Linked DNA regions of Homo sapiens: region 2 is linked to region 1. A link means that fine-mapping ties the variant in region 1 to the plasma level of a protein whose gene starts in the linked region. Region 1 holds a variant in brackets. A gene starts in the other region. All regions are shown on their reverse strands.

Region 1 (5,380 bases):
AGCTCCTCTTTACACCTCTGGTAGAATTAAGCTATAATCCTTCTGATCCTGGGCTTTTTTTTTTTTTTTTTTTGGTAGGCTATTTATTACTGCCTCAATTTCAGAACTCATTATTGGTCTATTCAGGGACTCAACTTCTTCCTGGTTCAGTCTTGGGAGGGTGTATATATCCAGCAATTTATCCATTTCTTCTAGATTTTGTAGTTTATTTGCATAGAGGTGTTTGTAGTATTTTCTGATGGTTGTTCATATTTCCATTGGCGTCAGTGGTGATATCCCCTTTATTGTTTCTAATTATATCTATTTGATTCTTCTCCTTCTTTTCTGTATTAGTGTAGCTAGTAGTCTATCTATTTTACTTTTTTTTTTTTTTCCCAAAAAAAACAGCTCCTGAATTTGCTGATTTTTTTAAGGGTTTTTGATGTCTCTATCACCTTTATTTCTACTCTGATCTTGGTTATTTCTTGTCTTCTGCTAGCTTTGGGGATAGTTTTTTATTTGTGATGTTAGGGTATTGACTTGAGCTCTTTCTGGCTTTTTGATGTGGGCATTTAGTACTATAAATTTTCCTCTTAACACTGCTTTCGCTGCATTCCAGAGATTCTGGTGTGTTGTCTCTTTGTTCTCATTGGCTTCAAAGAACTTCTTGATTTCTGCCTTATTATTTACCCAGGAGTCATTCAGGATCAGGTTTTTCAATTTCTACGTAGTGGTGTGGTTTTGAGTGAGTTTCTTAATCTTGAATTCTAATTTGATTGCACTGTGTTCTGAGAAACTGTTATGATTTCAGTTTTTTGCATTTGCTGAGGAGTGTTTTACTTCAGATTACATGTTCAACTATAGTAAGTTCTTTGTGGTGATGAGAAGAATGTATATTCTGTTGAATTTGGGTGGAGAGTTTTGTAGATATCTATAAGATCCACTTGATTCAGATCTGAGTTCAGGTCCTGAATATTTTTGTTAATTTTCTGTCTCTATAATCTGTCTAATATTGTCAGTGGGGTATTAAAGTCTCCCACTGTTATTGTAGGGGAGTCTAAGTTTCTCTGTAACTCTCTAAGAACTTGTTTTAAGAATGTGGGTGCCCCAGTATTGGGTGCATATATATTTAGGATAGTTAACTCCTCTTGTTTAATTGAACCCTTTACCATTATGTAATGCCCTTCTTTGTGTTTTTAATCTCTGTTGGTTTAAAGTCTGTTTTGTCAGAAACTACAAAAAAACCCTGCTTTTTTCTGTTTTCCATTTGCTTGGTAAATTTTCATCCATCCCTTTATTTTGAGCCTATTTGTGTCTCTGCATGTGAGATGGGTCTGTTGAATATAGCATACTGATGGGTCTTGACTCTATCCAGTTTGCCATTTTTTGTCCTTTAATTGGAGCATTTAGCCCATTTACATTTAAGGTTAATGTTTTTCTTTGTGAATTTGTTCCCGTCATCATGATGCTAGCTGGTTATTTTGTAGATTTGTTTATGTAGTTGCTTCATAGTGTTGTTGGTCTGTGTACTTCAGTGTGTTTTTGTAGTGGCTGGTAACGGTTTTTCCTTTCCATATTTAGTGCTTCCTTCAGGAGCTCCTGCCAGGCAGGCCTGGTGGTGATGAATTCCCTCAGCATTTGCTCATCTGAAAAGGGTCTTATTTCTTTTTTGCTTATAAAGCTTAGTGTGGCTGGATATGAAATTCTGGGTTTGAAATTCTTTTCTTTAAAAATGTTGAGCCAGGTGCGGTGGCTCACGCCTGTAATCCCAGCACTTTGGGAGGCCGAGGTGGGCGGATCATGAGGTCAGGAGAGCAAAGGTGGCAGCCTGCTCCTTCCCAGAGGAACATTGACCTGATTCAAGCCCAAATGCTGCTGGAGGTGTCTGGAGACCCCTGTTGGGAGGTCTCATTCAGTCAGGAGGGATAGGATTGGGGGGACCTGCTTGAAGAAGTAGTCTGGCTGCCCCTTGGTGGAGTTGGTACACTGTTGGGGAGAACCCCTGTCATCTGGACTGCCCAGACTCTCCAAAGCCAGCAGGCGGGAAAGGCTGTCGGCTGAACTGCAGAGACCATGGCTGCCCCTCCCCCAAGGGGCTGCATCCCAGGGAGATCAGAGTTCTGTCCATTAAACCCTGGCTGGAGTTGCTGAAATTCCCACAGGGAGGCCCCACCCAGTGAGGAGGAATGGGTCGGGGTCCCATGTAAAGAAGCAATCTGGCCACAACCTGCCGTAGCTGCTGAGCTCCACTGTGGGGAATCCCTCCCGGTCCAAACCACCCAGTCTCCCCAGCATTAGGAGGGCAAAATAGCCAACTGGAGCTGCAGAGATGGCAGCTGCCCCTTTCCCCAGGAACTCGGTCATCTCAGGCAGTCTCCAGTCGCTGCCACTGGCCCATGGGGATTTCTAAGCCAGTGGGTCTTAGCTGGTAAGGTTTTGTGGGAGTGGAGCCCACTGAAAGATGCCCCTTGGGTTCCTGGCTTCAGCCCCCTTCCTACAGGAACAGACAGATCTCCTGCCTCACAGGAATTTTCAAGCTTCAGCATGCAAAAACTCCTGCATCTCTGTGCCTTCCCGAGCAGCTGCTGACTGGAGTGGCCACCAGGTCTGCACAGCTCTGTGCCTGGGACCCAAGGCCCTGGTGGCATAGGCTCAAGAAGGAATCTCCTTGTTTGAAATGCTTG[C/T]TCCCCAGTGCCGTAAAGAAATAGCACTTGAACATACATTTAATTTACTCAGCAAGGCCATTTTTACTTACTGCAGAAAAGGTATGCTTGCCAGCAGTTTTGCCATGAGAGTACACCAAACAAAGAAGACAGGGTCATTTATAACCTGACGCATCCACCCTACTGCTGTGTCTGGTTTCCATCGGCTGGCACGGGACCTCACATCCTGTATTTGTTCCGATCGGCTAGCAACTTAGAACTTTCTTAAAGAGGCAAAGGTAGAGGGGAACAAAGGAAGGAGGAAGTAACTGGTGGAATGCTGAGAAAGGTAAAAAGCACCTTCACATAAGGAAGAGGAACAGGCTATCACCTAATGCTTGCTTGGACCAGCATAAGCATGCTAGGGCAAATATTTAGGCTAAATTGTGACATAAAGTACTTTGATTTCTTTACCACGGCTAGCAGATATTTAAGAATGTTAGCACAGGTCTTTGAATAAATTTTGCTTCTAAGAGAAGTTACTATTTATTCCTAATTAAATGGGGAGGAAAATCTTTGAAGAGGAACCTCTACTTTACTTTTTACATCCTGATCTATGGGTTGCAAAGATCCATGGGAAAAGTGTGATTTCCTGGGTGGGGTAGTGCAATCCCTCACGGCCTCCCTGGCCTGGGAGCGGGCGATCCCCTTGCTCCATGCAGCTCCCAGGTGGGCTGTCGCCCCACCTTGCTTTTCCTTGCTCTCCATGGGTCACTGCCTAGCCAGCATCCAATATCAACTGGATATCTCAGTTGAAGGTATAGAATGCACTTACCATTTTCATTCTTCTTGGTGAGCGCTGAAGACTGCAGCTGCTTCTAATCAGTAATTTTGTCCCTTCCCTCTAAAAGTTTTTTGTAGGAGGGAGGGGCCAAGATGGCCAATTAGAAGCAGCTGGAGCTATAGGTGTGCTGCTACTCAGGAGGCTGAGGCAGGAAGATTGCTTGAGCCCAGGAGCTTGAGGCTGCCGTGAGCTGTGATCGTGCCACTGCACTCCAACCTAGGTGACAGAGCAAGACCCCATCTCTAAAAGAAAAAGAATATCCATAAGGAATGATAAACGTATGCATGATTGTGAGAGTTAGAGTTTTCCAGATAAAGAGAACCAAGAGAATATATATATATATGTATATATGAAAAGATTTATGAGAAATTGGCTTATGGATTATGGAGACTAAGAGGTTTCAAAATCTGCTGTCTGCAAGCTGAAGACCCAGGAAAGCCAGTGTTGTAATTCCAATTTGAGTCAACGGCCTGAGAACCAGGGAGCCTATTTAAAACTGCATAAAACTGCAAGCCGTACATTTGCAGCAACTTGGATGGAGTTGAAGACCATTATTCTAAGTGAAGTAACTCAGGAATGGAAAATCAAATATTGTATGCTCTCACTTATAAGGGAGCTAAGCTATGAGGATGCAAAGGCATAAGAATGATATAATAGACTTCTGGGACTCGGGGCGGGGGAAGGGTCGGAGGGGCGTGATGGATAAAAGACTATACAGTGGGCCGGGTGCAGTAGCTCATGCCTGTAATCCCAGCACTTTGGGAGGCCGAGGTGAGCGGATCACAAGGTCAAGCGATCAAGACCATCCTGGCCAACATGGTGAAACCCTGTCTCTACTAAAAATACAAAAATTAGCTGGGCGTGGTGGCACGTGCCTGTAGTCCCAGCTGCTTGGGAGGCTGAGGCAAGAGAATCGCTTGAACCTGGGAGGCGGAAGTTGCAGTGAGCCAAGATCACGCCACTGCACTCCAGCCTGGTGACAGAGCAAGGTTCTGTCTAAAAACAAAACAAAACAAAAAAATCTATACATTGGGTACAGTGTACACTGCTCAGGTACCAAAATCTTAGTGCACCAAAATCTCAGAAATCCCACTAAAGAACTTATCCACGTAACCAAGAACCACCTGTTTCCTCCAAAATAATGAAGAAAAAAAAATACCCTGCAAGCCTTAAATATCATTAAGATATTTAATTCCTTAAATGTCTAACAGCACCAGACACGAGGATGATTATTGGATTGGGGAACAGAACAGGAGCCAATTCTTAAAGGTAGTCTTGCTTCCTTGAGCAGCAGAACCCTTGCTACTCAGACCTTCTTCCTCCTCTTTGTCCTTCCTCCTCTTTGTGTGCCAGGTTGGGCTGGCAGTATAGCCACAAATATGGGGGCTACTCACCACCAAAGAGGAGGCCTAGCACTCTGTGGGCAGGACTGGTCCCTGTGAAATCAGAGGAAAACCAGACTGTGGCCACAGTCACACTCCTCTGGCTTCTTTCTCTTTGTTAAGTTCCCAAACATTGGCCTGTTGTTGGTTGACCCAAAGACCACTCTCAGGTTCAATGACTGGCTGGAAGGACTTACAGAACTCAGAAAAGTTGTTATAGGCTGGGTGTGATGGCTCAAGCCTATAATTCCAACACTTTGGGAGGCTGAGTTGGGAGGATAGCTTGAGACTAGAAGTTAGAGACCAGCCTGGACAACATAGCAAGATCCCATCTCTAAAAAAATTAACAACAACAACAAAATAGCCAGATGCAGGCCATACACACCTGGAGTCCCAACTACTCAGGAGGCTGAGGCAGGAGGATCACATGAGCACAGGAGTTTGAGGTTGCAGTGAGCTATGATTGTGTCATTGCACTCCAGCCAGTGACAATCAGAGCGAGACCTCATCTAAGAAAGAAGAAAGAAAGAGAG
Region 2 (5,372 bases), not on the chromosome of region 1:
TCATCAAGCATTGATCAAGTGTTGGCTATTATTATTATTTTGGGTGTGGGTTTCAATTCCTTTTTAGCCATCTTATTTTTATTGTGGCACACCTGAGGCCTGGGAGCTCATTATAGAAGGATACATTCAAATGTGAACATTTTTCTCCTTGGGCTTATTCAACAGATATATTGATATATATAATATGTAAAAATGTATTGAGCGCTTAAAATACTCTAGGTACAGTTTTGCATGTGGAAATTTGTGAAATGGTATATAAGGTCCCTGCCACATAGGTTCACACTCCAGTGAGAGAAGTTAGAATCAGGCCAGAGGGACAATGGAGGGTGGGAGGAACTCTGTAAAATCCCTGCACTTGAGGGGCAAGTGGAGAATGAGAATCCATAAAATGCTGTAGAGAAATAAGTGAAACTAGAAGACATTAGTTCCATGAAAGTCAAGGGAAGAGAGTCAGAAAGAAAAGAATCCAGACAATGTTGGATGTTTTAGATAATTCAAATAAGAAAACAGAAGAATCCATGGGTTTGATAGTATGAAAATCATGGGTGACCTTGAGAAGAGCAAAATGTAGTGAGTTTGGAAATGAAGAGGTGGAGGTGAGGATATGAAAAGAATTAATCTTAGTTCAGAATGGAAAGACAATTTAGGAGAAAGAGCCAGAGGAAGAAAGACCATGAAGATACAAATAAAGCAAAATGGAATAGACAGGAGTAAACACAGATGGAGACAGGAGGGACAGGAGGAAACTCTGAGGTAAGAAACAGGATGAACTTGAATGTGGAGATGTCAGAAGTTGTTTAGACTTCAAGTTTCGTGCCCTTTTACATTCTCGGTGAAACTGGAGGTGAAGTCATCTGCTAGGGGTTTGGGAGCTGTGTTGAGCACTTGACTTAAGAAGAGTGAGTTTTAAAAGCCATCTTGGGCAAGTGGAATAGAAGATTATTTAAAATGAGAGATAACACTATTGGACTGTGCTAGAATCTAGCTGAAGTTTGAAAATTCCCATGGCTAGAAGTAACTCTTATACCCCAGCTTTCTAATTCAGAAGACCTAAGCCTGTATACACCACTGCAGCAAACATTTATGGCCAAGTTTATCTACACACATCTCACAGGCTAAAGAGAACAAGAAGCTGATATTGTGTTCAGGGACATCCTTAGCAATGTTTGAGTTTACAGGGGTTGCCCCACAGGCCTCAGCATCCCCTTAGTCTTTCAGCTTCTTTTCCTGCCCCCTGGTCCCAGTCTTGAGAGGAGCTATAAGGGCCCCATTCTGCCTGGATAACCATGAAGCTCCTTCATGAAAGGTGGTCCTGCCATTGTTGGACACTAGAATTAGAGGCTACCCAGGATTCTCTGAGACACAGCCAAGGCCAGTATTCCCCTGAGTGACCCTAAGTAACCTCTGAGAGAGAGCTGAGGGGTGGCATCAGAGAGCCCTGAATCTCACTGAGCCCCAGAATCTGTCTGGTCCCAGAGATAAGCAGAGTGGAGGCTGGTCCTGCCTATCCTGCTGTCAGGTTAGGCTGGTTCCAGCAGTAGAATGTAGGTAGAGAAACTCTGTACTGATAGTTCTCAGTTTGGGTTCACAAAGTGACTCCTGTTTATCATAAAAGGAGGGGCTGTGGAAAGCCCCCAAGAAATTAGCTGATCCAAACTTAGTTCTGCTGCACAAGCACATGGAGCTAGAGTGGCTCCCCCACAGAGAGCAGAGTTGAGAGCCTTAACCCTACTCACCACCACACTGCACCGGGGGTCCTGGGGCTATGTTGAGAAAAAGCTCACCTACCCAGTGGATTTCAAAAGGCCTAGGCAATCCCATTAGCTTGTACTAGCTAGGGTATTCAAGAAAGTCCACTTTGATAAAGTGACATTTAAGCAGGGATATGGAGGAAGTGAGAAAAGGAGCCATGCTGATATCTGGGGGAAGAATTGGCTAGGCTGAAGGAGCAGCAAGTGCAAAGACCAGAGTCTTGAGCATGCTTTGAGTGTTGGAAAAAATATCAAGGCCGCCAGTTGGGGTTGGGTATGGTGGTCAAGGCGAGTGGTAAGAGGTGAGATCAGAGATAGAGGGGCAGGTTAGTGAGGATGGGATGGCGTGGGATAGATTGTAGACTATTATAGACCATAGTTAAGGATTTTGGGTTTTCTGCTGAATAAGAAGCCAACCAGTAGAATTGCTTGGACAGACTTAGACTGATGTACTTTTAAAAGGATCATTCTGGTTGCTCTGCTGAGAATTGACTGGAGTGGGGTAAGCATGAGAGCAAGGAGAGCTATTGGAGGATATGGCAATAATTCAGGTGAAAAGTAATCGTGGCTTGCACCAGAGTGGTTGCAGTGAAGGTGCTAAGAAGTTGGTGAAATTCAGAGTTTATCTCTGAGGCAGGAGGCAGAGCTGATAGGATGTGCTGATGGGTTGAATGTGAGGTGTGAGCAAAAGGAGAGGGGAGGATAATTCTAATGATTGTGGCTTCATAGATTATGAAGATAAAATGAATTAATTCATGAAAAAAATTTGAGCAGTGCCTGGCAAGTGCTTAGTGAGGGCCAGCTAACTGTTATAGTATTATTGGACAAGTTATGGTGGAGGACAGTGGTTTCATATTTGCTGCTTATAATCACTTTCCACAATAGCTTGTGGACTCTGACATATCCCTGGTACCTCTATCTCAAGTTTCCTCCTGTACTTCCAGGCAGAATCACAGAGTACAAGGAGCCTCTTCATCTACAAAATGAGGATGGTAACCTCAACCTCATAGAATGGTTGTAAGGTATAAAGGGACACATATGCATGATTTATAGGTGCTCAGTAAATGTTATTCTTGTCCACCTTCTAAACCTTTGCTACTAAAACTATGGTCTGTGGCCCAGCACCATCAATATCACCTGGAAGCAGTTAGAAAATCAGAGTCTTAGTCCCACACCACAGCTGCTAACTCAGAATCTGTGTTTTAACAAGATCCTTAGGTGATTTGTGTGCACATTAATATGAGAGAAGCACGGCTCTAGCGTTTCAAGGTCATCCAGTCCAACAGTCTCTTCAGGATACAGATGCAGAAAGGAAAACTAAGAGAGAGGAAGAGATTTACATGATGTTACACTTAGTTTTGTCAAGACATCTAAATTCCAAGCTAGGGTTCTTTACACTAAAGTTTCAAAACTGTCTGTAATTCAGCTTCTCTGGGTAGGAAAGGATGGAGAAAAAGAAGAGGTCCTGTTTTCTAGGAAAGGACAGAACAGAATTAGGAGGTACCCAGGGTAGCTATTTTCATTTGAATCTCACAGATGATTTCAGAGGTCCCTAAATTGCATTCATGTATTTATTTATATTTAATAAACACTTCTATACCACTACGTCCCAGAAATCATTCTAAGCTCCTTACGCATATGAACACTATTTTGTATATTAACTCATATAATACCTAAAACAATCCTATGAGTAAGGGATTGTTATTTTCCCCACTTTACAGAAGAGAATCCTGAGCCACAGAGTGGTTAAGTAACTTGCCTTAGGTCACAAAGCTAGTAAGGGGCAGACCTAGGATTCCAATTCTGGCAGTTTTCCCTTCTACTAGGCCTGAGCCCACAGTAGCCTATTCTGGTCTTAACTCTAGCTAGGGGACAGATATGAAGTTCATTTAGGACTTTTTCTACTTCAGCTTAGGGCCTATTCAGCCCTTTCCCACCAAAGGCTTTTCAGCTGCTTTACTGAGACTCCACCCTGAGCTGGCATATAGCCTCTGCCCAGTACAGGAGGGGTCCCTCAGAGACTGATAATGGCTCATTTCTTGGTCCTCTCCCCCATACCTTGGCTCAAGCTTTTCTTTTCCTCTACCCATTAGGCTATTTCCTCTTTGACCTCTTTTAAAAGCTCCTAATCTATTGAAAAGCATTTGCTTTCCTTGTCAGACTCTTTTTTACTCCTTCTTCCTACTGGCCCCCAAACCCTTCCAGTCTGCACCTCATAGTTTGGCCCTTAATTCTCTGTCTCTGTCCGGTCTACTTTATCTTCCCAGCTCTGCAAACTCTTCAAGGTCAGGGACTAGTAACGTTTCGGGATTTATCCACCGCTGCCTCTGAGATCATGGATTAATAAACTCCCAAAGTGTCATTGTTTGAAGTGCCCTTAGAGACTACGTAGCTCAACCCCCTCCTTGTACAGACACTCAGGGGCCCAGAGAAGATGGATGATCAAAGCTGAGTGCCGAATCCAATTTTCCTTTATTTTTAGTGGTCTTTTCCCTGCTTCATGTCTGCTCTCTTCCTCCTGTCACAATCCTATCTACCCTTCTGAATGGAGGAGTATTTTTTTGAGGCAGATGCAGAGCTGGAAAGCGGCTTCTCCATGTGTCTGAAAATTTTGGCTTTTCCAACAATAATTTTCCCTGTCAAACTCCAAGCCTGCTAAGTCATGAATAAACTTTGATGAGCTGAGCTGCATTCAGCTGTGAAAGAGACAACTTGATGCTTTCTCTGGACCCCACTCCCTGGCCCTCTACTCTCTGGCCCCCGCTTCAGTCCCAGGAGATTTGCAGCTCCTGCCATACCAGTGGCTGGGTCACTGTTCTTCAGCCTCACATTGTTCCTCTCAAAGGCAGTTTCTTTTCGTAGCCACGCCTAGGCACTCAAACAGTCCAATAGCTGCTCTAGGAACTTCACGGGGGCGGAAGAGGTAAGCTTACCGTGAAAGGAGGGTTTGGGCTGTTGTTGCTACACGTGGATGTGAAATGAGTCAAGCGGAACTTTGATTACAAGGAATTTCATATACTGTGAGTGTGTATGCAGGCTGGGGGCTGAGGGGCGGGGGCTGAGGGGCGGGGCTGATGGGCGGGTCTGAGGGGCGGGGGCTGAGGGGCGCGGGGTGAAGGGCGGGGGGTGACGGGAGGGGGCTGGGTGAGATGTGTGCTCTGCGCTGAGGTGGATTTGTACCGGAGTCCCATTTGGGAGCAAGAGCCATCTACTCGTCCGTTACCGGGTGAGTGTGGGAACACCCCCTGGTGTGGCAAGGCGGCTGGGACCTGCGGCATCTAGGTGCAGAAGTACAGAATCAGGTCAGGATGATCCTGCTAGGGTACCGCAAAATCAGAACAATTGGGAAGGCGCCCTGTGGCTGGCTGTCAGTCCATCCATTTGTGTCCGGAGAGCGCTTTCTGAGGTATCAGGGATCTGGGCTGACATCTCTAGGATCTTGGCGAGCCATTTCCTGTAGGCTCTTACTGGACCTGCATTGCCTCTGAGAACATGCCTGGACGTGTCCAACAACCTTGAGCATCTAGGGTTGGGAGATAAAGAAGAGAAGGAGGCTGGGTGTTAGTGAAGGCGGGGACAGTGGATCAGACTTGTGGAGCATCCTGAGGAAAGCAGAACTGC

Alleles and levels. Alleles are on the strand shown, and positions count from the first base shown. The strength of an association depends on the size of the effect and on how common the allele is.
As copies of C replace T in region 1, the plasma level of the protein whose gene starts at base 4,894 in region 2 goes up (weak association).

The links. PIP is the posterior inclusion probability: the model's chance that the variant is causal. Protein levels are from antibody-based Olink assays in UK Biobank. Linkage for the fine-mapping came from a reference panel and not from the study's own genotypes, which makes the PIPs less certain.
Region 2: it holds the start of EDA2R, and the variant in region 1 is fine-mapped to the plasma level of the EDA2R protein (UK Biobank, PIP above 0.99).

What each region holds. Positions count from the first base shown.
Region 1 is chr1:248,894,791-248,900,170 of GRCh38, reverse strand. It overlaps a transcript of PGBD2 not described here. Among named protein-coding and RNA genes, the nearest start is that of PGBD2, 8.8 kb to the left of the region's middle. RefSeq lists a silencer at 4,117-4,299. The variant C/T (reference allele first, on the strand shown) is at 2,664.
Region 2 is chrX:66,638,600-66,643,971 of GRCh38, reverse strand. EDA2R (ectodysplasin A2 receptor) reads left to right here and starts at 4,894. Exons shown (of 7, transcript NM_021783.5): 1 at 4,894-4,977. RefSeq lists an enhancer at 5,074-5,372.